Linked DNA regions of Homo sapiens. The protein of the gene in region 1 purifies or fractionates together with the protein of each later gene. This does not show direct contact. Each region holds a gene or a part of one and is shown on either strand. Other genes may lie near its edges. The genes, in order: TFRC, MARCHF8, VPS51 and RAB11A.

Evidence for each region.
Region 2: the proteins of TFRC (region 1) and MARCHF8 purify together in Homo sapiens (affinity purification with western blotting; 4 studies listed by BioGRID, with this or other methods). This does not show direct contact.
Region 3: the proteins of TFRC (region 1) and VPS51 purify together in Homo sapiens (affinity purification with mass spectrometry; 2 studies listed by BioGRID and IntAct, with this or other methods). This does not show direct contact.
Region 4: the proteins of TFRC (region 1) and RAB11A purify together in Homo sapiens (affinity purification with western blotting; 2 studies listed by BioGRID and IntAct, with this or other methods). This does not show direct contact.

The regions. Positions count from the first base shown.
Region 1 is NC_000003.12:196,065,067-196,072,091, forward strand, and holds part of TFRC (transferrin receptor protein 1), read right to left. Parts: coding exon 6,937-7,025; intron 6,433-6,936; coding exon 6,330-6,432; intron 4,503-6,329; coding exon 4,389-4,502; intron 3,065-4,388; coding exon 2,966-3,064; intron 2,592-2,965; coding exon 2,452-2,591; intron 535-2,451; coding exon 377-534; intron 1-376. UniProt on the Homo sapiens protein: Cellular uptake of iron occurs via receptor-mediated endocytosis of ligand-occupied transferrin receptor into specialized endosomes. Endosomal acidification leads to iron release.
Region 2 is NC_000010.11:45,483,351-45,490,375, reverse strand, and holds part of MARCHF8 (E3 ubiquitin-protein ligase MARCHF8), read left to right. Parts: intron 1-958; coding exon 959-1,009; intron 1,010-7,025. UniProt on the Homo sapiens protein: E3 ubiquitin-protein ligase that plays several important roles in innate immunity and adaptive immunity.
Region 3 is NC_000011.10:65,091,701-65,099,238, reverse strand, and holds the start of VPS51 (vacuolar protein sorting-associated protein 51 homolog), read right to left. Parts: upstream 3,026-7,538; 5' UTR 2,989-3,025; coding exon 2,761-2,988; intron 2,242-2,760; coding exon 2,112-2,241; intron 1-2,111. UniProt on the Homo sapiens protein: Acts as a component of the GARP complex that is involved in retrograde transport from early and late endosomes to the trans-Golgi network (TGN).
Region 4 is NC_000015.10:65,879,466-65,886,490, forward strand, and holds part of RAB11A (ras-related protein Rab-11A), read left to right. Parts: intron 1-205; coding exon 206-286; intron 287-7,025. UniProt on the Homo sapiens protein: The small GTPases Rab are key regulators of intracellular membrane trafficking, from the formation of transport vesicles to their fusion with membranes.

The DNA.
Region 1 (7,025 bases):
AGCCTGACCAACATGGAGAAACCCTGTCTCTACTAAAAATACAAAATTAGCCAGGCGTGGTGGCGCATGCCTGTAATCCCAGCTACTGGGGAGGCTGAGGCAGGAGAATGGCTTGAACCTGGGAGGCGGAAATTGCAGTGAGCCGAGATCACACCACTGCACTCCAGCCTGGGCAACAAGAGTGAAACTCTTTCTCAAAAAAAAAAAAAAGAAACTAACACATAAACAATTAACTTTAGGACAGACAAGATTGAGCACTTCATAAAACCAAGCCAAGCCAGCATTCCTACACTCGCTCCTTCTCTAGCCACATCCTTAGGAACAGAAAAGAAAACAAAAAAAAAGCGGGGCGGGGGGGGGGGGGGGCGGTCTTTACCTGGTTCTACAAAGCCTTTAATAACTCCAAAGATGTTAAGAATTTTTATCTCTTTCAGCACATTGCTCACAGTGAGCTTCACATTCTTGCTTTCTGAGGTTACCATCCTACATGTAGAGTCTGTTTTCCAGTCAGAGGGACAGTCTCCTTCCATATTCCTAGAATCAGAAAGCAGGCGTAAGTTCTGAGTTATTGTTCCTTGCCCAGGGTTTACTCCTGTCCAGTGAAGTTACAGATTAAGAGGACATATAAACAAAACTTACTCTCAGCCCGGCGAAGTGGCTCACCCCTGTAATCCCAGCACTTTGGGAGGCTGAGGCAGGTGGATCACAAGGTCAGGAGTTCAAGACCAGCCTGACCGACATGGTGAAACCCCGACTCTACTAAAAATACAAAAATTAACTGGGCATGGTGGCATGCGCCTGTAATCCCAGCTACTAAGGAGGATGAGGAGGAGAATCGCTTGAACCTGGGAGGCGGAGGCTGCAGTGAGCCGAGATCACGCCACTGCACTCCAGCCTGGGCAACAGAGCACAAGTCCTGTCTCAAAAAAAAACAAAACAAAACAAAACAAAATAAAAACAAAAAAAAACTTACTCTCTAGTGGTGAACCATTTGCGTCTTACTTTGATCTGCAGGCAGCCAATTGGAAACCATTAATTAAGCAATATTTTAAAACACTTCTCTAACTATGCGCCTTTCTGCCAGACATACTTACGTAGTTTATATTTGGAATACATACCAAGATGGACTCAAAATGAAGTTCTTCTAATATATAAAAGAATATTAATACACTTTTATGTTTCCCAACTGTCACCACTAACAAGGATAGTACACATTCTTAGCTCAGTTATAAAAAATATTCCTCAGCTGGGTGCGGTGGCTCACGCCTGTAATCCCAGCACTTTGGAAGGCCGAGGCAGAATTCCTTGAACCCAGGAGGTGGAGGTTGCAGTGAGCCAGGATCATGCCACTGCACTCCTGCCTGGGCAACAGAGTGAGACTGTCAAAATAAAAAAAAAATCTTGTGCTTCCCCTATCTAATTCCTCTGTGTTACCCAAATAATAGCTGCTCCTAAGGGGGCTTACTTACATAAATATAGGTTGAAACATTATTACTCCCCTACTACATAAGGATAAGATGGGACGCTGGCTTCACAGGTTGGTTACGATTTGTAGGTGGTAGGTAGAATGAGTCAAAAAAATCACCTATGCTAAATGCCTCTTAGCGTTATCAATAGTCATGGTATGTTACACACTCCCCTATGCTAAAGGCCTCTCAGCATGATCAACAGTCATGGTATTTCATATACTCCTTATATACAGATGTTCTTCATTTGAGACTATCAAGTAGAATATATTTTCACTATCCAATTATGTTAAAGAAACAGGATCAGAGAACCTATGTCATACAGGAGATAAATGCTTTCATAAAGGCCTGAAACTAGATCTCCATCCTGTAATAACAGGAAATGATAAATATGTCCACATCCAAATCAAAATTAATGCTACGTACTCTAATGGAACTGGGCTCTGTTTTTAAAGAGAGACACTAACGTTACAGGGAGGATATCCAGAGGAGCGAGCCACAACCATAAATGGTTTCTCTGGAAACCATCATAAGAAGCAAGGCTTCTCAATCTATAGACAAGGTAACTGGAATCATACCGTATTGCTTAGAAGAAAAATCCAGACAAATGGATGTTTCGGGGAATAGGATTTTATCCCAATATGAATTCTAACAGATTCTCTCTACTAACTGAATGGGCTGCTATAGGCATCGTGCTTCAGCACAGAAGTACTTGAGCAGAAGCTATGCCAGGAATCTTGCACAAGGAATTCACTGGGTTTATAAGTCTCCTTATTCTCCTGTGTTTATAAGTCCAAAGTCCATTATTAAGATCTCTTTATAGAGAAAAATTCATTTATATCTGTACCAAGGTAACAGCTAACCATCCTCCAAATTCCCAAATGTGGAAAATTATCATCATGTTTAACATTTTAATCAACATATTACCGTTCTTCCCTAATCATAAAACCTCACTATGCAAGACCGCTTTCAAATAAAAACTTACCCAAACAGCTTTTCTGCAGCAGCTCTGGAGATTGTCTGGACAGGTATATTAGGCAATCCTGATGACCGAGATGGTGGAAACTGAGTGTGATTGAAGGAAGGGAATCCAGGTGTGTAAGGGTCACCTGTCCCCAGATGAGCCTAGGAAAACAAAAGAGCAATTCACTCCATCACATACTTCCTCAAAACTTCTCTGTAAGATTCAGGTTTGGTATAAGGCTGCAGCCCAACCTTAGTTTACCAACTTGAAGCCTCAAAAATCTGAGTGGCTCTACAATGTGACTCCTGTTTTCATGGCATATGGAAATTCTCAAATTCAAGGCACTATTGACAAAGTACTTTTAGCAACAAATAATAAAGCCTCAAAGTCAATGTAATCTATCTTCTTGCTTACTGCTAACGCCCTCCCAGAAAAAAGAGCAGTTAAGGAAGACACAGTGCTATTTCTGCTAATACAGGAATCCAAGAACAACTCAAGGAACTCAAAACGGTGATTTACTCAAGAAATAACTCACATGTCCAAAGAATGAAAGTTCTGCGTTAACAATGGGAAATTTAGTCTGGTCCATGTATATCAACACACCAATTGCATTTAAGCTTTCAGCATTTGCAACCTAAAAGAAAACATATAAAGCTCAGAAAATGAAGATCTGATCATACGAAATGAGAATACATCCTGGACATTATGCTAAAGGCCAAATGGTTACAGAGGACTAAACTTATAATACTTCCAAATATTTCAAATTGTTTATCTGGTAATTTATTAATTGCTTCCTGAAAAATTAACTCACTTGTTTGCAAAATAAGAGTAACGGGCCAGGAGTGGTGGCTCACGCCTGTAATCCCAACACCTTGCAAGGCTGAGGCAGGGGGATCACAAGCTCAGGAGTTCGAGACCAGCCTGGCCAACATGGTGAAACCCTGTCTCTACTAAAAATACAAAAATTAACTGGGCGCAGTGGCTGGCGCCTGTATTCCCAGCTATTTGGGAAGCTGAGGCAGGAGAATCGCTTGAAACCATAAGGCAGAGGTTGCAGTGAGCCAAAATTGCGCCACTGCACTCCAGCCTGGACAAAAGAGCAAAACTCCCTCTCAAAAAAAAAAAAAAAAAAAAAAAAAGAATAACAAAGGCCAGGAGTGGTGGCTCACACCTGTAATCCCAGCAATCTGGGAGGCCAAGGCAGGTGGATCACCTGACGTCAGGAGTTCAAGACCAGCCAGGCCAACGTCGTGAAACCCTGTCTCTACTAAAAATGCAAAAATTAGCCAGGCATGGTGGTGGTGGGCACCTGTAATCCCAGCTACTCAGAAGGCTGAGGCAGGAGCATCACTTGAACCTGGGAGGCGGAGGTTGCAGTGAGCTGAGATCACGCCACTGCACTCCAGCCAGGGTGACAAGAGACTCCGTCTCAAAAAAAAAAAAAAAAAAGAAAAGAAAAATAACAAAAACCCATCTAAGACAACCACTTTTTTGAGTCTCACTGTCACTCAGGCTGGAGTGGCACGAGTCACATCTCACAACCTCCAGGGCTCAAGCAGTCCTCCCACCTCAGCCTCCTAAAGTGTTGGGATTACAGGTGTGAGCCCTGCCACTTTTTTTAAAAATGCAGAAATCACCACTGTCTTTTGATATGTTCCACTCTAGTTCCTTGTGTATGTTTGGCTATTAATTTTCCTTTTTATAAAACATGCTTTTAGCTGAATTCTGTATATGCGTAAAACTGAGTTATACAGAGAAATAGCTTTCACTTAAGCACTTCTGATTAGGTAAGTGGAACTTACTTCATTTGTTGAGCATTTTAATAAATTATATTATCTGGTATGAGAGTTTAAGATTGCTGATTTTCAGAATGTAAGAATATTAACAAGAAATATCACTTACCTGAAGAGTAAGATACCAAAAGTACTGTATTTAATATTATAATAACTCATACTCACCTTTTCTGCAAAGGTGATTTTCCCTGCTCTGACAATCACTATAGATCCATTCACAGGAGTGTATAAATCCTCAAAATCTTTTTTAGTACCAAAATTAGCATGGACCAGTTTACCCTAGAACAAAGACATTAGATTTAATGAGCATTATGGTATCGGAACAGCTCTAAAATCTTGAGACAGAAGAGTGTTATAGATCAAACCTAAGACAGGCAACCCAAGTAAGAGATAAAAGGAGGCCAAGGCCTAAAAAAGACATGAGTTCTAAAAAACTTTACAACTTTTAGGTCAGAGCTATTGGAATAAAATCAAGATTTTTGGCCTCCTATGTCTTTCATGCTTTTATCCCATGCTGCCTTTCATCTGAAGGGCATTTAGATTAAAGAGGCCTATGTAGGCTGGTCATGGGACTGGAGGCCTGGAACAATCTTAGCCTTGAGGACATCATAGAAATAGGTTTTAACTGAAAGGTCTGATAATAAATCTGTCCCAAAATTAAAACACCATCTATTACAACAAAGTGACTTGCATACACCAACTTTAGATGTGTCATGATGTTCCTAAGCTCATAAGAGTCCAGATGAACAGCCATAAACTGACACTAACAACCAAGCCCTCAATACAGAAAGCTTGAAGTTGAACAAAAATCTTCAATGTTCTTTAACAGAACAACCTACCCATCTCTAAACTCCTGGCTTATAGGCAGCCAGGCAAAGGGATAAAGCACAAGTATCCAGAAAGGCAAGGAATCAACACAGAACTGCACCAGCCCCGAAAGGTATCCACTAGAGATACGCCTGACTTACAAATGTGATTTTTTTTTTTTTTTTGAGATGGAATTTCGCTTTTGTTGCTCAGGCTGGAGTGCAATGGCGCAATATCCGCTCACTGCAACCTCCACCTCCTGGCTTCAAGCGATTCTCCTGCCCCAGCCTCCCAAGTAGCTGGGATTACAGGCACCCACCACCACGCCTGGCTAATTTTTGTATTTTTAATAGAGTTCACCATGTTGGCCAGGCTGGTAGCTCTGACCTTAGGTGATCCACCCACCTTGGACTCCCAAAGTGCTGGGATTACAGGCGTGAGCCACCACGCCCAGCCACAAATGTGATTTTTAAGCTGAAAATTATTCTATCTATCTGTTCTCTATTTCTGTGTTAATTTGACTATATTTGCCTAAATTTAAAAAGATCAAGGGCTGGGCGAAGCAGCTTCCTCCTGTAATCCCAGCACTTTGGGAGGCTGAGGGTGGTGAATCACCTGAGCCCAGGAGTTTCAATTGAAGACCAGCCTGGCCAACATGGCAAAACCCTGTCTCTACCAAATAATAATAATAATAATAATAATAATAATAATAAAATAAAAAATAAAAATTAACTGGACATCTCAGCTACTCAAGAGGCTCACTTGAGCCTGGGTGGTGGTGGAGAATGCAGTGAGCCAAGCTCACGCCACTGCACTCCAGCTAGGGCAACAGAGTGACACCCTGTCTCAAAACAAAAATAGAAAAAGATCAAGCATTAACGAATCAAGCTAAGACTAGGCCCCAGCCAAGATGGATATTTACATCTGTCCCCACAGGGAGGATATGCATTTGTTTAGCAAATACTACTATGTATGTCAGGCATTCTCCAAAGCTCTGCAACATGGCAGTAAATAGAACTAACCCATGATTCTTCATCTGGCTCACATTCTAATGGAAACAAAGGCATAGATAATGTCAGCTGCTAGCAGTACTATAAAGAAAAAATAAAACAGGACATGGGGAAAGTGATTAGAGAGAGAAGACAATGCATGTTGACTGTGTCATTAGAGGGTTGAAAACCAAAATATCTCATGATCATTTACATTTTACAGGTAAATTTATAACTCCTAAGAACAGAAAAGATGAGTTTTGAATGATTCAATAGGGAAGAGTCTCATGCACTGTTTTGCTTTACTTACAGTAACTGTTGCAGCCTTACTATACGCCACATAACCCCCAGGATTCTCCACCAGGTAAACAAGTCTACCGTTCTTATCAACTATGATCACCGAGTTTTGAGCGCTGTTAAAAAGATTAAGTTAAAATAAGCCTAAGGTCATCCTTCCAAAAAACACAATAGCTTACATTTAGTATGTCTTGCATTATTTGGCTTGAGGAAATTTACCTCTAAATCTTAAGCTTGATTTTTATTTTAAAAGCCTTTGGGCCGCATGCGGTGGCTCACGCCTGTAATCCCAGCACTTTGGGAGGCCCAGGCGGGCTGATCACCTGAGGTCAAAAGTTCGAGACCATCCCACCTCTACTAAAAATACAAAAATTAGCTGGGCGTGGTGGCGTGCGCCTGTAATCCCAGCTGCTCTGGAGGCTAAGGCAGGAGAATCACTTGAACCCAGAAGGCAAAGGCTGCAGTGAGCAGAGATTGTGCCACTGCACTCCAGCCTGGGCAACAGAGCGAGACTCCATTTCAAAAAAAAGCCAACAACACTAACAAAAAGTCTTTGCTATATTTAGCACACCTGAAAATAGCTACTTGTATAAAAATAAGTTTACCATCTTTCAACATACCTGTCTTTGACCTGAATCTTAACAAAATGTTGATCACGCCAGACTTTGCTGAGTTTAAATTCACGAAATTGATTTTCAACATACAACGC
Region 2 (7,025 bases), on another chromosome or scaffold:
AATCCTATTGGATTAGAGTCCACTAGGATTAGAGTCACCTCCTGAGTAGCCGGGACTACTATTGACCTCATGTAAACTTAATTACATCTTTAAAGTCCCTATTCCAAATAGTTATATTCTGAGGAAGAAGGAGTTTAGGACATCAACATCTAAATTTTCACAGAAGGGAGGGGAATACACAGTTTAGCCCATGATAGTTGTGTATCAGGGAGGTCAACCTAAAGGCAAAAAGGCCAGGTGGGATGTTATTCTTCAAGAATTCTAGCTGAGAAATGAAGAGAATCTAAACTAAAGCATTGTCAATAAAAATGAAAATGAGTTGTGATTGAGAGGAGGAAGAATTTGATACAAGACTATGTGACTGAATGTGGAGGGGCATGAGAGGAAGGAGGCTGGCATGGCTCCCAGATTTCCCTGCTCCAGGAGGAGAAACTGAGTTGAAGGAGATGTGAGCTGTGTGATATCCCGATTGAGTATTCAGCACTTTGTTAGCCAGACACCCCAGGACTGGTCAGCTGTCCTACTTTCTTCACTCTTTCGCCGTGACTCCTCATAATGTGGACTGTGTCACATACAACTGAGCATGCAGCCTCTCCACTTGAAATGTGTCTTAAGACACTTATCACCATCTGAACTTTCACGTGAAATGTGACTTAAGACACTTATTACCATCTTATTTTGACAGTGAATTCTAAACTCTTATTTTTTCCTGATAATAAAAAATTAAATCTCTTAAATAAAATGTTAAATCCTTTAGGACAGGGACTATTGTGTATTCATTTTGCCCAAATGTGCAATATTTACTGCCTGGCTACATACATCTAGTATATAGTAGGTTGTGCTTTGCAAATTCTAGTTCAGGGAATGATTTGTCAGTAGGGTTGTTGTGATCAATTACTTGTTCTTTGCATATTTTAATCAAAGATTGATAATTAAAACCTGTTTGATTTTCTTGCAGAATGAGAAGACTTTGGGACATTTCATGAGTCATTCAAGCAACATTTCTAAGGTAGAGTGCCACTGAAAAATGTTATTTATTACCTTGAGTCTTTTCTGTTCTTATGCCTTACATGTGTTTATACTCTTTTTTTTTTTTTTGAAAAGACGTTAGAGTTCTTGATACATTTCTGTAATCTGTTCTGGGACCATAAGAGGTATGTGGCAGTTACATTTTTCTGGTAAGGCAATTTTGAGTGTGTGTTGGGGGAAGTGACTTCTGGGAGAAAATTCCATTTTTTCCAGAAAACCATATACTTTAAGGCAGAAGAAATCTCAGGCACAGGAGAGTCTGTTGCCACAATTAGGAATATATTTGACTGAAAGTAACAGAAAGCTAACTATGATGACTTACATAATTATGGATTTATATGGTTCATTTGACAAGGTGTCTGGAAGCAGGTGATCCAGGGCAGAGTTGATCACAGATTGTAGTGCACCCGATTCTGTGGCTGTTCGGGGTGCCACTGTGTAACCCGCATGGACCTAGGGGAACTGAACAAGGGGTGAAGGCGGGAATAAAAGACAAGAGACAAAAGAGTATATTTGGAAGAAGGAGGCATCTTGGCTCTAGTGGACAAGGGCCCTGAGCTTTACACAGCCCTCCATATTTATTAGGCAAAAGAGATAGTGAGAAGGCGGGTGGAAGAAGGGGTCAGCTGCTCAGTCTAGAGTAGGCTTGCAAGACTGCATTCCTTGAACAAAAGGTTCTAGATGTTGCAGTAGAGAACCTTGGCGCCAGGGAGTGATTGCCTCCAGCAAACCTTCTGTTGGCAGGAGCAGTCGGCCGGAGCAGTCGTGAGTTTGCTCATATCCTGCATTCATGATGAACGGTTTGCTGTTTGATCATATAGTCTCCAGGGGAATGCTGAGTTGGTCACGTCCCATGGGTCTTCGGCTCCCTGTAACAGATGTTGCCAGGGACCCAGGCTCTTTCCTCTCTGTGCTATCTCCTACTTGACACATGGTCTCACGATGAGAGCTGGACCTTCAGGCATTGCGGTTGTGGCCTTGGCAGGAATTAGAGGACTGATCAAGGATTAACAGGTCTGTTAGCTGAGAGTCACCATTTTCAGCAGGAAGGCAAAAGTTGTCCCACAAGTCCCACCTGGCCGCCTGAAATCTGCTTACATCTCCCTGGCCAGAACTGGATCACAGGCCACCTCTAGCTGGAAGGCAGCTAGGGAAAGGAGGGCTTGGGAAGTGAATCAGCCATCCAACAGCATCTCCTCACCTGTGGTGTGGTCTTTTTAGCGCACCAGGAGCACACTGGCTGCTAGGGTATGGCCTGGGAACCAGCAGAGTGTATCTGATGCAGTGAGCTTGCTTCCAGGCAGTGCTCCTCTCTCAGCCCACACATTGACTCTGGCCAACCCCTTCGCCATACAGTTAAGGCCATGAAAGTTCTTTGTAAGGGTGGACCTTTTCCCCATGTTTTTGGCATATGGCCAAACACACCACAGATTCAGCTGGGAGGATTTGAACAAGTGACAAAGTCTATCTGCTGTCTCAGGCCTCCTAGATACTCTGAAATGAACAGTTACATTATATGCCATTTTAATGTGCTGACTACATATATGTTTTCATTCAGGTCACCTTATTTTTTTAAGACTAAAAGTAAACTCTGGCAAACCTTCTTAAGACATTTGTCTGTTCTTAGGCATATTTGTAATCTAATTATATTATTCTTCCGCTTAATTTTGCGTTAAAAATAGGAATGCCTTTCACAAAATATTTTTTCCCATCCAACCTCCATTTCTTTTCTTTTGCTGTCCCTTTGGCCAGGAATGCTGCAGTGCTAGAACTATGCAGTGGTAAACCATTGCTGCCCATTTTTGCACCTTTTAAAGGAGCTAATCAGTGTCTAAGCACGGAGAAAAGTGAGAAGGTGCAGCTGCAGATGGCCTGTTTGCTTAAGTTGAATTAAATGTGTTAAAAAACGCTCAGTAACACATGTATGTCGCCTTGCCCTAGTAGCCAAGGGCAGTTCTGAAGGAGGACATCCTATGCTTTAAATATGTACCTGTTCATTCATGGATTTCAGTCACATTTTATTTAAAGGAAACTTCTTCCTATAGTTAAAAAAAACTGTTTGCAAACCACCATCTTAAAAAGTCTAGAGGAAAGGCTATTGTCCTGGCTTGGGTTGTGGGTATTTTGAGCTTTGTAAGGGTTTTGGAATTAACATGGATGATGGTTTACTAGCCATGTGATTTTGAAAAAGGACATCTCTCTGAGCTTTAATTTAGTTATCAGTAAAAGTAGGGTAAGCCAGGCGTGGTGGCTCACACCTGTAATCGCAGCAATTTGGGAGGCTGAAGCGGGCGGATCACCTGAGGTCAGGAGTTTGAGACCAGCCTGGCCAACATGATGAAACCCCATCTTTACTAAAATTCCAAAAAAATAGCCAGGCGTGGTGGTGCACACCTGCAGTCCCAGCTGCTTGGGAGGCTGAGGCAGGAGAATCGCTTGAACCTGGGAGGCGGAGGTTGCAGTGAGCTAAGATCACACCATTGCACTCCAGCTTAGGCAACAAGAGCAAAACTCCGTCTCAAAAAAAAAAAAAAAAAAAAAAGTAGGGTAATAATACAACCTTCAGGGTTGTTCCGAGTCTTGGGATTAACATTTGCATGGAACCATGGGGCAGCTCACCCATTACACTGAGCCAACAAACCTGACTCTTGTCAAAGTTCGTTGAATCCTGGTGACCTTAGGTTGATTGGGCCAGGACAGTTCATTTAATGGTAGCTTTATTATTTATTGCTGAACAATGGAGAACCATACATTATTTTTTCCTTCTTGCATACATTTTTTTTTAGACAGAGTCTCGCTCCGTAGCCCAGGCTGGAGTGCCGTGGTGCAATCTTGGCTCACTGCAACCTCCGCCTCCTGGATTTAAGCAATTCTCCTGCCTCAGCCTCCTGAGTAGCTGGGATTACAGGTGCGTGCCACCACGCCCAGCTAATTTTTGTATTTTTAGTAGAGACAGGGTTTCACTATGTTGATCAGGCTGGCCTCAAACTCCTGACCTCCTGATCCACCCGCCTTGGCCTCCCAAAGTGCTAGGATTACAGGCGTGAGCCACCGTGCCCGGCCCCTTCTTGAATACATTTTTACTGTGTGCTGTTTGCGACTGGACACTTAGTGTGTCCAGTGAGTTCCGGGATGCTTACTATGGTCATTGGAGAGTATCTGAGTGGAGTGAGCCTTTAGAACATTTGATTACTCACAGAACTTCCTGGTTAACCTGTCAACGTGAAATTCTGTTGCAAAGTGTACCCTTTTGTAACGAAGATAGTTAGCATGCTGTATAAGGTGGTTAGACATGAACCAGTTCAGTGGGACCAAGGAAGGGAGGGCAGGCCCCCTGTGGAAGATAACTGTTTTTGAGAAGACAGTTTTTTTATTGGAGTATTTATTAAATGAACCTGCTGTTTGAAGCCAGTTTTAGGCCGTGACATGTAAAATCGTATCTTCAGTATAGCAGACATACTCTTGAGATTAAAGGAGGCCACAATGTGGACATACTGTATGCTACCTGAAATCCCCGTTGTCTCTGTCAGGAGACTTTCTGCTGACTTTTAGACCCCAGCTGGGGTCAGCACATGAGCCAGTCACTGCAGTCTGCTTTATGCTTCTGCAGTTCACCTCTTGCTGGCGTAAATTTAGAGGTTGAAAAGAGGTAAAAAATAAACCTTTAATCATGCCTCCTAGTATTCCATCTAGATTTTATTACAAAGTGTCTCAGTGTGTATTGGAAGCATATTGACTTTAAAAACCAGGCTCCATTTTCAAAGAAGGAAGCAGGTAGGTTGGATGAGATGTTTATGAGGCTGCTAGGTCTGTGGTGGCTTGCCTCTCTTCAAAGTGGGCAGCTGGATTTGATCCCCTTAAGGAGTTAATAGAAGAAGCATATTGGGATATTTAAGCAATTACAATGGCAAAGTCTTCACCCAATACTTATTTTGTATTGATAGTACAATGTTAATGGATATCATTTGTTGAGCCTCTGTTACCAAGGGATTTCATGAAATTTGTCACCTCCAATTAACATCCTAAGGGGTCCAAAGTCACCTTTTCCTTTTATTTTTCAGGATCGCACTTATCACTGCCTGGGTTTTCATGAATTTTTTTCCATTGCACCTTCACCCCACATGTAACCTTCATGAGTGTAGAGCCATGCTTTGTTTACCCCTAAATCTGCAGAACCAGTGATGGGATGGAGCCCTGGAGGTTGTCAGTACATGCTGAGTCAATGTTTGCATGCTGTTCTGCTAGACACTTGATACCCAGCCCATTGGTTCATCCCTCTTCATCATCCCAGCCACTTCCCAGGCCCAGGCCTCCTAAACTCCTGCAGTAGCTTCTCAAGAATCTATCCCAAACCATCTAGCACCCAGTAGCCAGTAAGTAGAATTCCTAATGCTTCTCTTTTCAATTCTTCAGTGTTTCTGATTACACTACCTTGAGCTGTCACATCTAAGGTGACCTGGGCCTGGCCACTTGGAACCTGATCCTGTGCAATATCCCCTTGGTCATGATGATCTAGGTATGGTGTCTACCTTGATGATTTTCAAACAAGCCAAATTCCTATTTGCGCACCTTTTGTTCTGTCCGAGAGGCCTCTCCCAATCTTACCCCTTTTTTGCATGAATGGCTAAAATTCCTAACTCATTTCTCTTTCAGTTCTTAGCTTCTTTAGAGGCACTTACCCTTGACACCCTCCCCTTAGTCTAAATTTTATCACCCATTTGGGTTTTGTTACTCTTTCTTCATAGCACCTATCACAGTTTGTAATGATAGCAGTGTGTAGAAAATCTTATATTTTTAGAAGCAGCAGAATGTCCCCCCTTGGAAAAAAATCTGTTTAATTGACTGGGTGCTTGGAGAAGTTTGAGGCAGTTTGAGTCCCACAGGTGACATGCTTTATACAAAGACGGGCACTGGAATGCAGCCCCCATGAAATCGCCATGCATCTTGCCCAGACCTTCACCTCACCGCAGGGTCCTTGACCATGTGGGCCCACGAGCCATCCTGGAGGATGTTCCCCAGATGCCCCATCCACACTCAGTCCTCACCCTATGTACTTCCCTTGCTGCTGTTTGCTTAATCATTTTCTAAAGAACAAACTCAAAGTTTTATATCATTGTGTAGTATCTGAAATCACATTTGATTGGTTTTCTTTTTTTAGTTTATTTGTACATATTTATGGGGTACCTCTGATATTTTGTTACATGCATAGACTATGTAATGATCAAGTCAGGGTATTTGGGGTGTCCCTCACTGTGAATATTTATCATGTCTATGTGTCAGAAACAATTTAAACCTCTCTTCTAGTTATTTTGAAGTATATAATATATTGTTAACTGTAGTCACCCTACTCTGTTGTTATTGAACATTAGAACTTATTGTGACTATCTAACTGTATTTTTGTACCCATTAACCAATCTCTCTTTATCCCCCACTCCTGCCTCCATGCACACCCTTCCCAGCCTCTAGTACCTATAATTCTACTTTCTACCTCCATGAGATCAAATTTTTATAGCTCCCACATGTGAGTGAGAACATGTAATATTTGTCTTTCTGTGTCTGGCTAATGACCTCCATCCATGTTGCTGCAGATGACATGATTTCATTCTTTTTGTATGGCTGAATAGTATTTCATTGTGTATATGTGTCACGAATTCTTTACCTGTTTGTCCATTGATGTGGACACTTAGGCTGATTCCATATCTTTTGCGAACAGTGCTACAATAAACATGGGAGTACAGATATCTCTTTGATAATACTAATTTGTTTTCCTCTGGGGAAATACTCTGTAGTGAGATTGCTGGATTATATAGTAGTTCTATTTTTAGTTTTTTGAGGAATTCCCATACTATTTTTCATACTGGTTGTACTAATTTGCATTCCCACCAACAATACATAAGAGTTCCCTTTTCTCTGCATCCTCACCAACATCTGTTATTCCCTGATGATTAGGGATGCTGAGCAGTTTTTCATGCAGCTGTCGGTCATTTACATGTCTT
Region 3 (7,538 bases), on another chromosome or scaffold:
TCTCATTTTTCTCTCTCTCTTGCCCAATCAACACACACTCCATGCTACATTACTTTCCTGAGTGTCTCGCCCAAGTCTATCAAATCTATGTCTTGAAACACCTTCCTCACGCAACCTCCACCTCCTGGGTTCAAGCAATTCTCCTGCCTCAGCCTCATGAGTAGCTTGGACTACAGGCATGCACCACCTTGCCCAGCTAATTTTTGTATTTTTAGTAGAGACAGGGTTTCACCATGTTGGCCAGGCTGGTCTTGAACTCCTAGCCTCAAGTGATCCACCCACCTCAGCCTCCCAAAGTGCTGGGATCACGGGTGAGAACCCCATGCCCGGCCCCTCACTTAAGCTTCTAAGACATCAATGCTCCTGGTTATCCTCACACTTTTCCAAACGTTTGTTCCTTTTGTGGGATGTACAAAAAGAGCTAAGTCTCAAAATATTATTATACACATTCCAACAAATGGAAAATGTAATCTTATTAAATTCCTGTGAGAAATATCCCAGCACAGAAACTATGATTTCTTGCCATTTTGATGCTGGTATTAGCTAACAGAAAGGTGCCTACTCATGGAATCTGCTTCAAATCAGATAAAAGAACAATGTGTATAGGTTACCACACCCACCACTGTGACACGAGAGTAAGACATCAGAATGCAACCCCACAGATGCTCCCAGAACATTCCACAGGCTGCAGGTAAACCCTTTGGATCTGGCTCCTGGACTTACTACACGTGGGTGTACAATTACTACAAAAGTCTGAGTAGTACATCTCCTCAAAACAGCACAGAAGCTAGTGTGGAAAACAGTGGAACACTGTCTGGCACTAGAGAATAAAGAGGACAGAAGAAAAAAAAAGCCTCGACATGATCTTTGTGTCCCCTAATATCATACATCTTCTCTCTTTGCTTAGTTAAGGAGGGAAGGAAGGGAGAAAGAAAGGGAGGGACAAGACCACCTATTCTTCCCTGGAGCAGAAAAGAAAGCTATCAATAATAAGAGAAACTACACCTTACTGAGGTTTCCTTGATGTCAGGGATTCTTCTTCTTATTATTTTTTTTTTCAGACAGAGTCTTGCTCTGCTGCCTAGGCTGGAGTGCAGTGACGTGATCTTGGCTCACCGCAGCCTCCACCTCCCAGGTTCAAGTGATTCTCCCACTCAGCCTCCTGAGTAGCTGGGATTACAGGTGCCTGCCACCACACCCAGCTAATTTTTTTATTTTTAGTAGAGATGGGGTTTCACCATATTGGCCAGGCTGGTCTCGAACTCCTGACCTCAGGTGATCCACCTGCCTCGGCCTCCCAAAGTGCTGGGATTACAGGCATGAGCCACTGTGCCCAGCCTAGTGTCTGGGATGCTTCTTCAGATAGATACTTTCTTTTTTTTGAGACAGGGTCTTGCTCTGTTGCCCAAGTTGAAGTGAAGTGGTACAAGCACAGCTCACTGCAGCCTCGACCTCCCAGGCTCATGTGATCCTCCCTCCTCAGTCTCCTGAGTAGCTGGGACTACAGGCATACGCCATCTTGTCCAGCTAATTTTTATTTTTTATTTTTTTGTAGAGATGGAGTCCCACTATATTTCCCAGGTCAATCTTAAACTCTTAGGCTCAAGTGATCCTCCCACTTCAGCCTCCCAAAGTGCTGGGATTACAGGCATGAGCCACCATGCCTGGCCTTTTAAGTGCTTCAGATAAATACATTTCATTTTAAAATTTCATTTTGGGCTGGGCCAGGGACTCACACCCGTAATCCCAGTGCTTTGGTAGGATCCAGAAGGATCACATGAGCCTGGGATGTCGAGGCTGCAGTGAGCCATGATCATGCTACTGCCCTCCAGCCTGGGAGACAGAACAAGACATTGTCTCTAAAAAATAAACAACTAATCTCCTTTTGTCTTTTCTCTCCTTTGGTACTTAAGACAACCCTCTGAGAGTAGCTATTATCTCTATAGTAGTCTGACAACGAAGGCTCAAAGGAAAGGAGGTGAGAATGGAATAATGTCAGGACAAGACTGGAATCTGAGTCTCCCCCCTCTAAATCCCTTGCTGGTTTTCCCAACACAGGTGGGAGAATGGGGGCTGTGAGACTTTGGAGGGTGTGTCCCCGTGGGGATCACCTGTGGCTGAGATGAACTTGTTGTAGTTCTCATAGACCAGGGTCTGCATGTCGCTGTCTAGAGCCCGGATCTGCCGCACCATGTCCGTCTCACTGTCCATCAACTGGGCCAGAGGGCACTCTCTACGCAGCTGAAGAAGTTGGGTGGTTAGTGTTCGGGTCAGGAGGCATTCATGTCCCCCAGCCTTGCCTGCAGCTGATAGGCTTTCAGGGCAAGAAATCTCTGATCCCCACCCACCCCGCAAACCCCCGCCGGCTGTCAGGAATCCCAGGCAGGGGGCCCTAAGTGGCCTAGCTCAGGGGTTACTAGGTTCAACCGTGTTTGGTGTTTGTCAGCATTTGAAATCCTGGGGCTCGGCCTAAGCCCAGCCCCGCGCCTGTCAACGCTTGGGCCACGCCCCCAATTCCGGGCCTATCACATCAGCCCAGAAGACCTCAGATGCCGCATCACCTCAGGCCAGTCCAGTCCTACTCACATCCCCTCAGACGCCTCAGCTGCTCGTACTCCCTGGCCGAGGTTCGTCCTCTTATGAACACCTGCTCTCCTGAACCTCACAAAAAGTCGGAGGCATGATCTGGGGGAGCAATATAGCAGGGGCCTGGTTCCCTTCCCCCCTCCCCGCACCCCCCCACTCCCCGTGCGCACACACCTTGTCTAGGTAAACTTCCGGGTCGAAGTGCGCCCCGTTCAGATCAGTCGGGTCCAGGGGGTCGGGCCCCGCGGGGCGTCCCGCCGCCTCCCCTTCCGAGAGGCCGTAGTAAAGCTTCAGCATCCCGTGCGCCTTCCGCCGACGCTCCGGAGCCTCCCCCTCGGGCCCTTCTGGGGAGTCCCCAGGTCCAGACCCCGGGCTAGGCCCGGCGGCAGCTGCCGCCGCCATCGTTCCAACTGCAGCCCACGGGCGTGAGGCTGGAAAGGAAGGGGACGGGGAGGAGGCACTTCCGGGAGCCATAAAGTTGTTGTTGAAACGAGGCAGTCCTTCAGGTGAAACGTCCCCCTGCAGCCCTAGGTCCTTCGAGACTAGAGTTCCCCCGCACCTGTCTTCCCCGGGTGCAAAGGTTCCGGGAGAGCCCTGAATTCCCCCAGTTTCCTGGGTGGAAGCATTTTGTGGAACTGCCTGGGGTTGCTGCTGTCCCAGAAGGGGGACGGGTAGTGGCTCCCCAACCTGCACTCTCGCAGGCAAGGGGCCCACGGAATATGTGCCCAGATGCAATGGACGGATGCGGGACGTGAGGCCAGAGTAGAGTGTTCCTGGGATCCTGCCACTGGCAGTGGCTCAGTTTATCCCATTCCTAAAATTGGGGTACATACTTCACAGGGGGGCTACGAGGATTAAATGCATGTACACTATTCTGTACCACGCCTCTAGCGCAGTTCTTCTTAGGGCCTGGTCCTCTGACGTGCATCAGAATTGCCTTCAGGACTATCTGTGGCGCATTGTAAGTCTCTGCGCTGAGCTGCGCCGGGCACTCCCGTAATCCCAGCACTGGGGAGGTCGAGGCGGGTGGATCGCTTGAGCCCAGGAGTTCGAGACCAGCCTGGGCAAAATGGCGAAACTCCGTCTCTATAAAAAAAAAATACAGGCCAGGCGCGGTGGCACACGCCTGTAATCCCAGCACTTAGGGAGGCCGGGGGGGTGGGGGCGCGGATCACAAGGTCAGGAGTTGGAGACCAGCCTGGCCAATATGGTGAAACACCCGTCTCTACTAAAAATACAAAAATTAGCCGGGTGTGGTAGCGCGCGCCTGTAGTCCCAGCTACTCGGAGACTGAGGCAGAAGAATCGCTTGAACCCGGTAGGCAGAGGTTGCAGTGAGCCTAGATCTCGCCACTGCACTCCAGCCTGGATGACAGAGCGAGACTCTGTCTCAAAAAAAACAAAACAAAAATTAGCCAGGATGATGGCGCACGCCTGTGGTCCCAGCTACTCGGGAGGCTGAGGTGGGGGAACTGCTTGAGCTGCGATGGTGCCACTGCACTCCAGCCTGGGCAACAAAGCAAGAAAAAAAAAAAAAGACTCTGGGATTCTCTCAGATCTAGCTTCTTTTTAGAAAGTTCCCAAGTAGTTCTGATACACACTCACATTTAAGAACCCCTAAGGCCGGGCACAGTGGCTCACGCCTGTAATCCCAGCACTTTGGAAGGCAGAGGTGGGAGAATTGATTGAGCCCAGGAGGTCAATACTGGCCTGGACAACGTAGTGAGACCCGCCCCCTATTATTGAAAAAAAAAGGACAGACTCAGCAGAGCTTAAGTGACTGATGGAATGTGCTGAGTGAAGGGTTAGGTGGAAATGTGGAGGATAACTCTCAGGGTTCTCTTTTCCTTTTTTTTTGAGACTGGGTTTTGCTCTTCATCCAGGCTGGAGTGCAGTGGTGCTATCTTTGGCTCACTCCAACCTTGACCTCCCCTCCCACCTCAGCCTCCTGAGCTGCTCTCCCAGGGTTCTGACTTGGACAAAAGTGCAGCTGTGCACAAAGGTGAAGAGCTCATGAAGACAGGGAACGATCTGGAGTTCAGATTAGGACACAGAGTTGGAATGGAGGAAAAAGAGAAAAAGACTTTCTTCATCAAAGTGGCCCTTGAAACATTACTTATGAAGGGCTGTTGGAGGAAGGTTGGAATGGAAAAACTCACTGGTTTACTTGTTCTTTGCCAGGGATCCTGCAGGCCAAACACAGCTCACCACCTGTTTTCATATGGTCTGTGAGCTAGAATGGTTTTCTCATTTGTAAATGGTTGGGAAAAAAATAACATTTCATGACACCTGAAAATCATATGCAATTCATATCCCATTTTCCGTAACTCTTATTGGAACACAGTCACGCCCATTTTTTAACATATGATCTATGGCTGCTTAGTTGAGGCTAGGCACGGTGGCTCATGCCTGTAATCCCAGCACTTTGGGAGGCCAAAGCAGGCAGATTACCCGAGGTCAGGAGTTCGAGACCAGCCTGGCTAACATGGTGAAACCCCATCTCTACTAAAAATACAAAAACTTAGCCGGGCCTGGTGGCGGGCGCCTGTAGTCCCAGCTACTTGGGAGGCTGAGGCAGGAGAATCGCTTGAACCCAGGAGGCAGAGGTTGCAGTGAGTCAAGATCATGCCATTGCACTCCAGCCTGGGTGACAAGAGCAAAACTCCATCTCAAAAACAAACAAAAAAAAACCCCAAACAAACAACAACAAAAAAAACACAGAGCAGAGTTGAGTAGCTACCACAGAGACTGCATGGTCCTCCAAACCTAAAATATTTACTATTTTACGGGAAAAGTTTGCTGACCTCTGAATCAATGGGATGTCTAGAAACCATTTAAAATACTTGATTTCAGCCTATGAAGCTATAATCTTAAGAAAATGAAAAAGGGTATAGATTGAGGTCTACTCCAAGAAGTCTATAAACATTTTTAAAAGTTGGAGAATAGTGTTAAGACAAATCATCCAGGCAGGGCGTGGTGGCTTACGCCTATAATCTCAGCAATTTGGGAGGCCAAGGTGGGCATATCACCTGAGGTTGGGAGTCCAAGACCAGCCTGACCAACATGGAGAAACCCAGTCTCTACTAAAAATACAAAATTAGGCTGGGCGCAGTGACTCACGCCTGTAATCCCAGCACTTTGGGAGGCCAAGGTGGGTGGATCACCTGAGGTCGGGAGTTCGAGACCAGCCTGACCAACATGGAGAAACCCCCGTCTCTACTAAAAATACAAGATTAGCTGGGCTTGGTGGCGCATGCCTGTAATCCCAGCTACTCGGGAGGCTAAGGCAGGAGAATTGCTTGAACCCGGGAGGCCGAGGTTGCGGTGAGCTGAGATTGTGGCATTGCACTCCAGCCTGGGCAACAAGAGCAAAACTCCGTCTCAAAAAAAAAAAAAAAAAAAAAAAGGAAAAATCCAAAAATTGGAAGTCCAAGAGTGTAGTGTGTCCTCTCATTGTCACACTGGGGCATCGTTTCAGAAGCCCTCCCAAGGATTATTTACCCACAAGAATACACAGTTGTTTGATTTTGCTATTCACTAGTAAGGTAAATAGACTGAAATTACAAGGAGATATTGTCCAGGAGAGATGAAAGACATGTATATCCAGTAGAAAAACTAACCTCAAAGGGTATAATTTTTGTCATGTAGGACATCCATTGCATTTTGCATCTAACCTAGTAATCATATGCTAACATTCTTCTTTATTGTATTTTATTTTATTTGAGACTTGCTCTGTCACCCAGGCTGAAGTACAATGGCGCGATCTCAGCTCACTGCAACCTCTGCCTCCTAGGTTCAAGTGATTCTCCTGCCTCAGCCTCCCGAGTAGCTGAGATTACAGGTGCACACCACCATGCCCAGCTAGTTTTTTTGTATTTTTAGTAGAGACAGGGTTTCACTATGTTAGCCAGGCTGGTCTCGAACTCCTGACCTCAGGTGATCCGCCCACCTCGGCCTCCCAAAGTGCTAGGATTACAGGCATGAGCCACTGCACCTGGCCTAACGTTCCTCTTTAAATGCTCGTCCTGTCCAGTTCCTCATGTGCATTACCACCTTACCAAGCGGAAATCCCCTCACTGATGAGTTAAAGATCTTTTTTTTTTTTTTTTTTTTTTTGAGACAAGGTCTCACTATGCCCCCAGGCCGGACTGCAAAGATGCAAGCAGGGCTCGAATTCCTGGGCTCAAATGACCCTCCCGCCTCAGCCTCCCAAGTAGGGGGTACTACAGGCAAGGGCCACCACAACCAGCTAATTTTATTTTTTTTTAATTTTTAGTAGTGAGGAGGTTTCACTATGTTGCCCAGGCTGGTCTCAAACTCCTGAGCTCAAGTGATCCTCTCAGGCTCACTTTGGGAGCTCAGCCTCCCAAAGTGCTGGGATTACAGGCATGAGCCACCGCACCCGGCCTAATAAATCTTTGTTACGTGTTCATTCTATATTTAGACGTAGGTTTTAACTTTTTGAAAAGTACACTTTGACAAAACATATGATTTTTAAAAATGCTTTAAACTTATGCATGTATATGTACATCTAGATGTATGAAGTTACCGTTACATAAAGAAGGGACCTAAAAGATGCCAAGTCACCAAACTGGGGAAGGGGGTACTTCAGTGGTGGGGATGCAGCAGGGAGACTGTTACATTTTCCTCTGCATGCTTGTGTATTATGCAAATATTTTACAAGAACATATTCATATATACATACATACATATATGTGTGTGTATATATATATATATATATTTTTTTTTTTTTTTTTTTCTTGAGATGGAGTTTTGATCTTGTTGCCCAGGCTGCAGTGCAATGGCACAATCTCGGCTCACCGCAACCTCCACCTCCTAGGTTCAAGCGATTCTCCTGCCTCAGCCTCCCGAGTAGCTGGGATTACAGGCATGCGCCTCCATGCCCGGCTAATTTTGTTTTTGTTCTTGTTTTTTTTTGAGACACAGTCTTGG
Region 4 (7,025 bases), on another chromosome or scaffold:
TGAGACCTGCATCTCTACTTATATAAAGAAGTAAATAAAGTAAGTAAATAAATAAAGTGTAAACAGAATGGTGCCCTTACTGTCCCAGAAGTTGAGGAGGTCTTAAGTTTTAAAAAGTTCTGTTATTTTTCCTTTTGAGGGCTTGAGTATATCCTATTCCTTGTTTTAAAACTTAACAAGACTGAACTTTTGTGTCTCCCCTCAGAAAAGAATGGTTTGTCATTCATTGAAACTTCGGCCCTAGACTCTACAAATGTAGAAGCTGCTTTTCAGACAATTTTAACAGGTAAGACTTGTATTTTCAGATTACACCAGTAGGACTAGAAGTTTTAGGAAGGTAATTTAAACAAACTAATCAGTAACTAAACTATATATCAGCCGAGAGTGACTATCATTTGAGAGCTACTCTAGCAAAAGCTGTTTAGAGTGCAAAATTAACTACAACCCTTGCTCACTGAGCTTCAGTTGTCCTAATTCATCTGATTTATAGTGGGAAAAATACTTTGAAAATAATTCATTCACTTCCATTATTACTTCAGTCCAGGTATTCCATTCTTCATGGTCACAAAGTAATGTTTAAATGTACTTTTATGAGGTAAATATTGAGATCCCAGCTATAGAAAGATATAAATGCCCTTTTTTAAATTTAGTAAAGGCAAAGCTAGGGAAAAAACATTTTTAAAAATTATAGCGACAAAATAAAATTCTCCCATGATACAGAAGAAGGGTATCCCTTGCGTATTCTATATTGTATCATGGGAGATAATTGGTAGATAAAATCAGCCAATGATTGCATATAGAAAAGTTTTAAAAAGTAGTTGGAAAGAGATGGAGTTCATGCTGTTTTGGAATGTGAATGACCAGGTCAGCCTCTGAGATAAGAAGTGTTCACTCATATTTATCCTGAAACTATTAGAATAACCAGATTTATTAGTAAGATTAGTCTTAATCTTCTAATTAGTACTTTGATGGGTTGTTTTTAAATACTTTTAAATTGTATGTTACTTTTAAGAACTCATGATTTAAAATGTGGTCTTAATATATAGTATAGTTTTACGTGGCATTGTTCTAAAAAGTCTATACAGAGATATGATTGAGTTTCCAATTATAATGTAACAAGTTTTGATTTATTGTTTGTATGCAGCCCCTGTATTAGAGATTAACAGATTTTAACTTTAACATGTTATCTTCTTTTACTGTAAAAATGTAAGCGTAAAGTCAAGGAGTTAAGATTTGGAAGCCTGACTTGGGTTCTAGTCCTGGCTCCTCCACTTACTGTTAGTTGTACAATCTTAGGCAAGTTACCTAACCCTTTTAGGCCTTAATTTCTCCATCTATAAAATTCATATATATTTTGAGGAGTTTTGTTATTTCTTTTTTGAGAGAAGGCTTATATTTATAAAATCTTGTGATAGGATTTGACTTGACTTTTGTGACCTAAAGGTTTTTTGTCTCAGTAACCCTTAGCAAAGAATGGTCTGTCACTGCCCTAGACTTCAAAAATGAGTACCTGTAAAGTACCCATTTTGAATACTGTAAATTACTTATCTATCCCTGGTATATAGAGAACAGTTGGCAAATTAGTAGCTGAACGGCAATTAAGGCATGAGAAAATTGGAGATTTATGTACCTATTTTATTATAATTCTTTTCTGTTATCAGAAGAATAGTGCTGGGGTTGGATAAGCAGTCTTTGGAACACAGTAGCTTTCCTTTAGAATGTTCTCTGTCAAAGTTTCACTGCAGATTGTTTTAAGCAAGCAAGATTTGATTAAATATGTAGTATGTCTGCAAGTCCTTGTTTTCTTTATAGCCATTTGTGTACATTTTATTAAGTCAACATGTAGAGTACTAGATTGAGACCCAGGAGTTCTAGGGCATTACATTTTTATCACTTTGCTTCTACTCCCCGTTTAACTAAAGTCACTGAACCTCCCTGCTCCTCAGAGTCATAGTCTTAAAACATGTGAATTAAATTACCTTAAAGATGTGTGAGCATTTTAAGGCCTCAGAAAGTCTCATCTGAAAAAACTTTTTAGACAGTCCTCATTGTTGGAATATTTTTTATGTTCCATCAAATCTCCTCTGCTGTAATTCTGGCCCATTTATTCTGATATTAAGTGAAGATGAGCCCAAGTCTTCCATCTGCAGTTAACTATTTTATGCATCATTTTGTAACATTGAGCTTCTGATCCACTCAAACATGAACTAGTCGGTACTTAAAATTGAGCCCTTTAAGAGCTGGGCATGTTGATGCACGCCTGTAATCCCAGCATTTTGGGAGGCTGAGGCAGGCGGATCGCTTGAGCTCAAACATCCTAACACCTGTAGAACAACACAGATGTCTGCTGCCACATGCAGTGATCTCAAAAGTTCAAGACCAGCCTGGGCAACATGGTAAAACCCTGTCTCTAAAAAAAAAAAAAAAAAAAAAAAACACAAAAAAATTAGCCAGGCATGGTAGTGTGTGCGCCTGTAGTCCCAGCTGAGGTGGGAGGATTGCTTGAGCCTGGGAGGTTTAGGCTGCAATGAGCCGAGATCATGCCACTGCACTCCAGCCTTGTGGGCAGAGTGAGATCCTGTCTCAAAAAGAAAAAAAAAGATGAACATATAGTTGCTTTTCTTAAAATTCACTCTAGATTGAACTTTTGTTACAGCTTAATTGTTGCTTGAAAGCAAAGAAGACTTTAGTTTCACTTGCTACCACTTTTCCTTTCTATATTCACTGTTTCCTCAGCTTCCTGCATAAATCTCACTGTTGGTCTGTAGGATCAGAGATCACTGCATGTGGCAGCAGACATCTGTGTTGTTCTGCAGGTGTTAGGATGTTTGTTCTAAACTTTCTTCCTCCTGTATGCCAGTGGAAGTGTGAATGCATAGAGAAAACAGTGAAGAGGACAGACTCTTTATTGCACTTGATTCTACCTTAAATGTTAACAGTCTTAAGGGAGTATTTACGTTGTGTTTTGATATTGCTGAAAGAAAAAATAGCTTTAAAATTTCTAAAAATTGAGATGGAGCCCAGTCTGGTCTTGAATTCCTGAGCTCAAGCCATCTGCTTGCCTTGGCCTCCCAAAGTGCTGGGATTATAGGCATGAGCCACCATGCCTGGCCAAAAATTTTAAGTTGTAAAATTATATATCAGAAAATTTACATTGTTACTTCAGAGTTAATTGTGTTGTTGGTTTCAGAATAGACCCATGGCATTCTTGACACCCATGAATTTGAAAGTGACTCCATGAGATGATTTTGCTGATGGTATTTTTTTAGAGGTAGTTTACTAGTATGAGAGTGAGACTGGTAGATTGCTCCGCCTCTGAATTTCAGTACAGCTTTGTCTTTTCTCAGGTTCACTAAAGGATGTTTTTAATACATACCTTTTACTTTTTTATTTTAACTTTGCATTTTGACAATTTCAAATTTAAAGAGGTTGAAATAATAGTAAAAAGAATTTGCAAATATCCTTCACCCATATTCCTCAGATGTTAATATTTTACCACATCTGCTTTGTCCTTTTCTTTCTCTTCGCTCTAAATATATACATATTTTTTCGGCACCATGTGAGATTAAGTGGCAGACATGATGACCCTCATCCTTGAGTACTTTTCAGTGTATATTTTGTAAAAACAAGGATATTCTCTTTTATAGCCACAGTATAATTATCAAAATCAGAGAGTTAGATAATAGTGCCACATCAGTGTTTAATTACAGACCTTATTCAGATTTTGCCAGTTGTTCCAATAATACCCTTATTAGCCAAAGAAAGTCCAAGATCAGGTCATGCGTTTCATTCAGCAGTCATATCTCTTTAGTCTCCTCTAATCTCGAACAGTTCCTCAATCTTTTGTTTATTGACCTTGACATTTTTGAAGGGTACAGTCCAGTTATTTTGTTGTGTACCTCATTTTGGGCTTTTCTGATTTCTTTCCTCATGATTAAACTCAAGTTATACACTTTTGGCAGGAACACCACAGAAGTGTTCTCAGTGCATCATATCAGCAGGTTTGTGATAATTGGATGTCCTATTAATTACTAGTGATGTTAACTTTGACCACTTGGTTAAGGTGATGTCTGCTAGGTTTCTCCATGTAATTAATATGTCCAGGATATCTTTTTAGCATGAACACTAAATTCTTTTTTTTTTCCCCTGAGTCTTGTTCTGCCAGGCAAGACTCTGCCTCCTAGGTTCAAGCAATTCTCGTGTCTCAGCCTCCCGGGTAGCTGGGATCATAGGCCTGAGCCACCATGCTCTCTAATTTTGTATTTTAAGTAGAGACCGGTTTTACCATGTTGGCCAGGCTGGTCTCTAACTCCTGGCCTCACGTGATTCGCCTGGCCTCCTAAAGTGCTGAGATTACAGGTGTGAGCCACCGCCCCTGGCCTTATTCTGCTTTTGGTATGTCAGAAAATTTCCATAAAAAAAAAGTTAGAGATGTATTAACTGAATTACTACATTTTCCAAAATTAAGAACTAATTTCTCAGAAGTTGAAAAACAGTAAGCTGTAGTCAACTGAATATGTAAACTAACAAAAACAGACAGCAAGTGTATCTTTTCTTAGATTCTTTTGTGGGGGAAGGGGAGTGGCTAAAATTTATGTCTGAGAAGGTTGACAGTGGTTCAAATGTGAAGAGGCATTAAGGAAAGACAACTAGGATTCAATAAAGACAGGCTACTAAAATTAAAATTAAAAAAAAAAAGGATATGGAATCTTTATTTAGATTTTGTTTCAATGAAAAAGGATGGGATGGGAGGGTGCCAAGGCTAAAGAAAAGGATTTACCTTTCAGTCATTCAATCAGATGAGTGGCTAAGGAATAAAGATAATTAACTTGCATCTTTAAGCTTTCCCTCTAGTCTCAAACTGGGAGGCTCTTCTTTTTCAAGTGTAAATTATGTGTGTAAATTAAGATGAAATATGTAACCCACTGTAAGTTTTAACTTCCTTATAAATTGTTTTGAAGATTAAATTAGGGGAACCAAAACAAAGAAAAGTTCTTACATAAAAAACAAATATATGTAAAACTGGAAGAGAGGGAAAGGCAGACTTCTCAAAGAACATAGAGAAGTAAATAATTAAAGAGATCTCATTACAAAGCAAGAAATTTGAGCAGTGTTGGTGTGTTACAAGTACAGCATACTGTTTTTTAGAAATAGATTACTGCTGCACTTACTCCAGTTACCAAAAAGGATGTCTGCTAATAAAAATGCCACCAAAGCAATAAAGAGTGATTGGCTTTAAGAGGTTCCACAAGTAATTTACATACTTAAGTCTCTTGTGGCTGGGTGTGTCATTAAAAAAAAAAAAAAACCAAACCAAAAACCTGATAAGAAAGTAGGAAGCAGGTAACTTCTAGCTGTCTGATTAGAGAAGGTTATTTCATTGGGAGTTTTGTGGGGGTGGGGGGGTATGCTAAACTAGATCTATTTCCTTCTTTCAAAGGCATGTTCTCCTTTAGAACCAAATGAATATACCAATTCCTATGCAGTCGCCCCCACCGTTTTTTTTTTTTTTTGGAGACAGGGTCTCACACTGTCCCCAGGCTGGAGTGCAGTGGTGCAGTCTCAACCTCACTGCTCACTGAGTGAGACTCTGTCTCAAAAAAAAAGGCATTCTCCTACATAATCACAATACCATATGTCGTATCCAAGAAATTTAACATTTATACAGTTTTTTTTTTTTTTTTTTGAGACAGTGTGCTCTGTTGCCCAGGCTGGAGTGCAGTGGTGCTATCTCACTACAACCTCCCCTCCGGGACAAGCGATTCTCCTGCCTCAGCTTCCCAAGTAGCTGAGACTACAGGCGGGTGCCACCCCACCTGGCTAATTTTTTTTTTGTATTTTTAGTAGAGACGGGGTTTCACCATGTTTGCCAAGATGGTCTTGATCTCCTGACCTCGTGATCCGCCCGCCTTGGACTCCTAAAGTGCTGGGATTACAGGCGTGAGCCACCTCGCTTGGCCCATTTATACAGTTTTTAATGTGCAATCCATATTCATATTTCTTCAGTATACTAATAATGTCCTTTGTAGATTTGTTTTTTAATTAAAAAATTCAAGATCCATTTAAAGATCACATGTATAGGAGCCAAGGGAAGTGTCCCTATTGCCCTCTGAAGGTTTGCTGAAAGCTATCTGATACAGCTTTGGACCTTTCACGAGGTCCAAACGATAGGTAGAGGTTAGGAAGAAAAAGAATCCTGCTTTATCATTTTTATATCATTTAGATTTCTCTTGTAGGAGATCTAAATAGAAACCTCTGAAAGTTTGCTGGAAAATCAACTCACAAAAGGCATTTTAATTGGAGAAAAGGCATACGAAATTTATTAACATGTACACTGTACACTGGTTTTCTCTGGGGAGAACCAGAGAGATGACCCACCTCCCAATGGCATTCAGAGGCTTATGCCATTCTGGCAAAACAGGTTATGGGAAGGAGGAGAAAAGGAATTCTGTTGAGGGGATTACTGGGGAGGATGAACGGATCAGTGGACAGAAATTAATTGGTACATTATCTCGTGAAAGAGTCTGTTTAAGTGTGGTTACATTCTTGATCTTACAGGGAGGGGAAGAAAAAACAATTGTCCCTTTTAGTGGGTCTGGATCTCAGGCAGATGAAGGAACTTCAGCTTCATCCTGTGCCAGGGAGAGAGGATGAGGGGGAGAAGGTCAGAGAGACCTTGAGGCTTCTTTAGTTCAGCATATCAAAACGCCATTTTGGAGTATGGGTTTCTGAGCCTTAACAGATGGAATTGTTTTGTATCTGGGATGTTGAATAAAGTAGCCACAGGTTACTATTGAGCACTTGAAATGTGGCTAGTTAGATGAGGAATTGGATTTTAAATTTTATTTAATTAAAATAGATGGCTACTCTCTTGGATAGCACAAATTTAGAACATTTATCCCCATCTCAGTCTGGATTTATCTCATTATTTCCTCATGATTAAATTAGTTTTAAATATTTTTGTCAGGAATACATGGTGTCCTTTATAGGAATACATTGTGTCTTTCCTAGTACATCGTATTAGG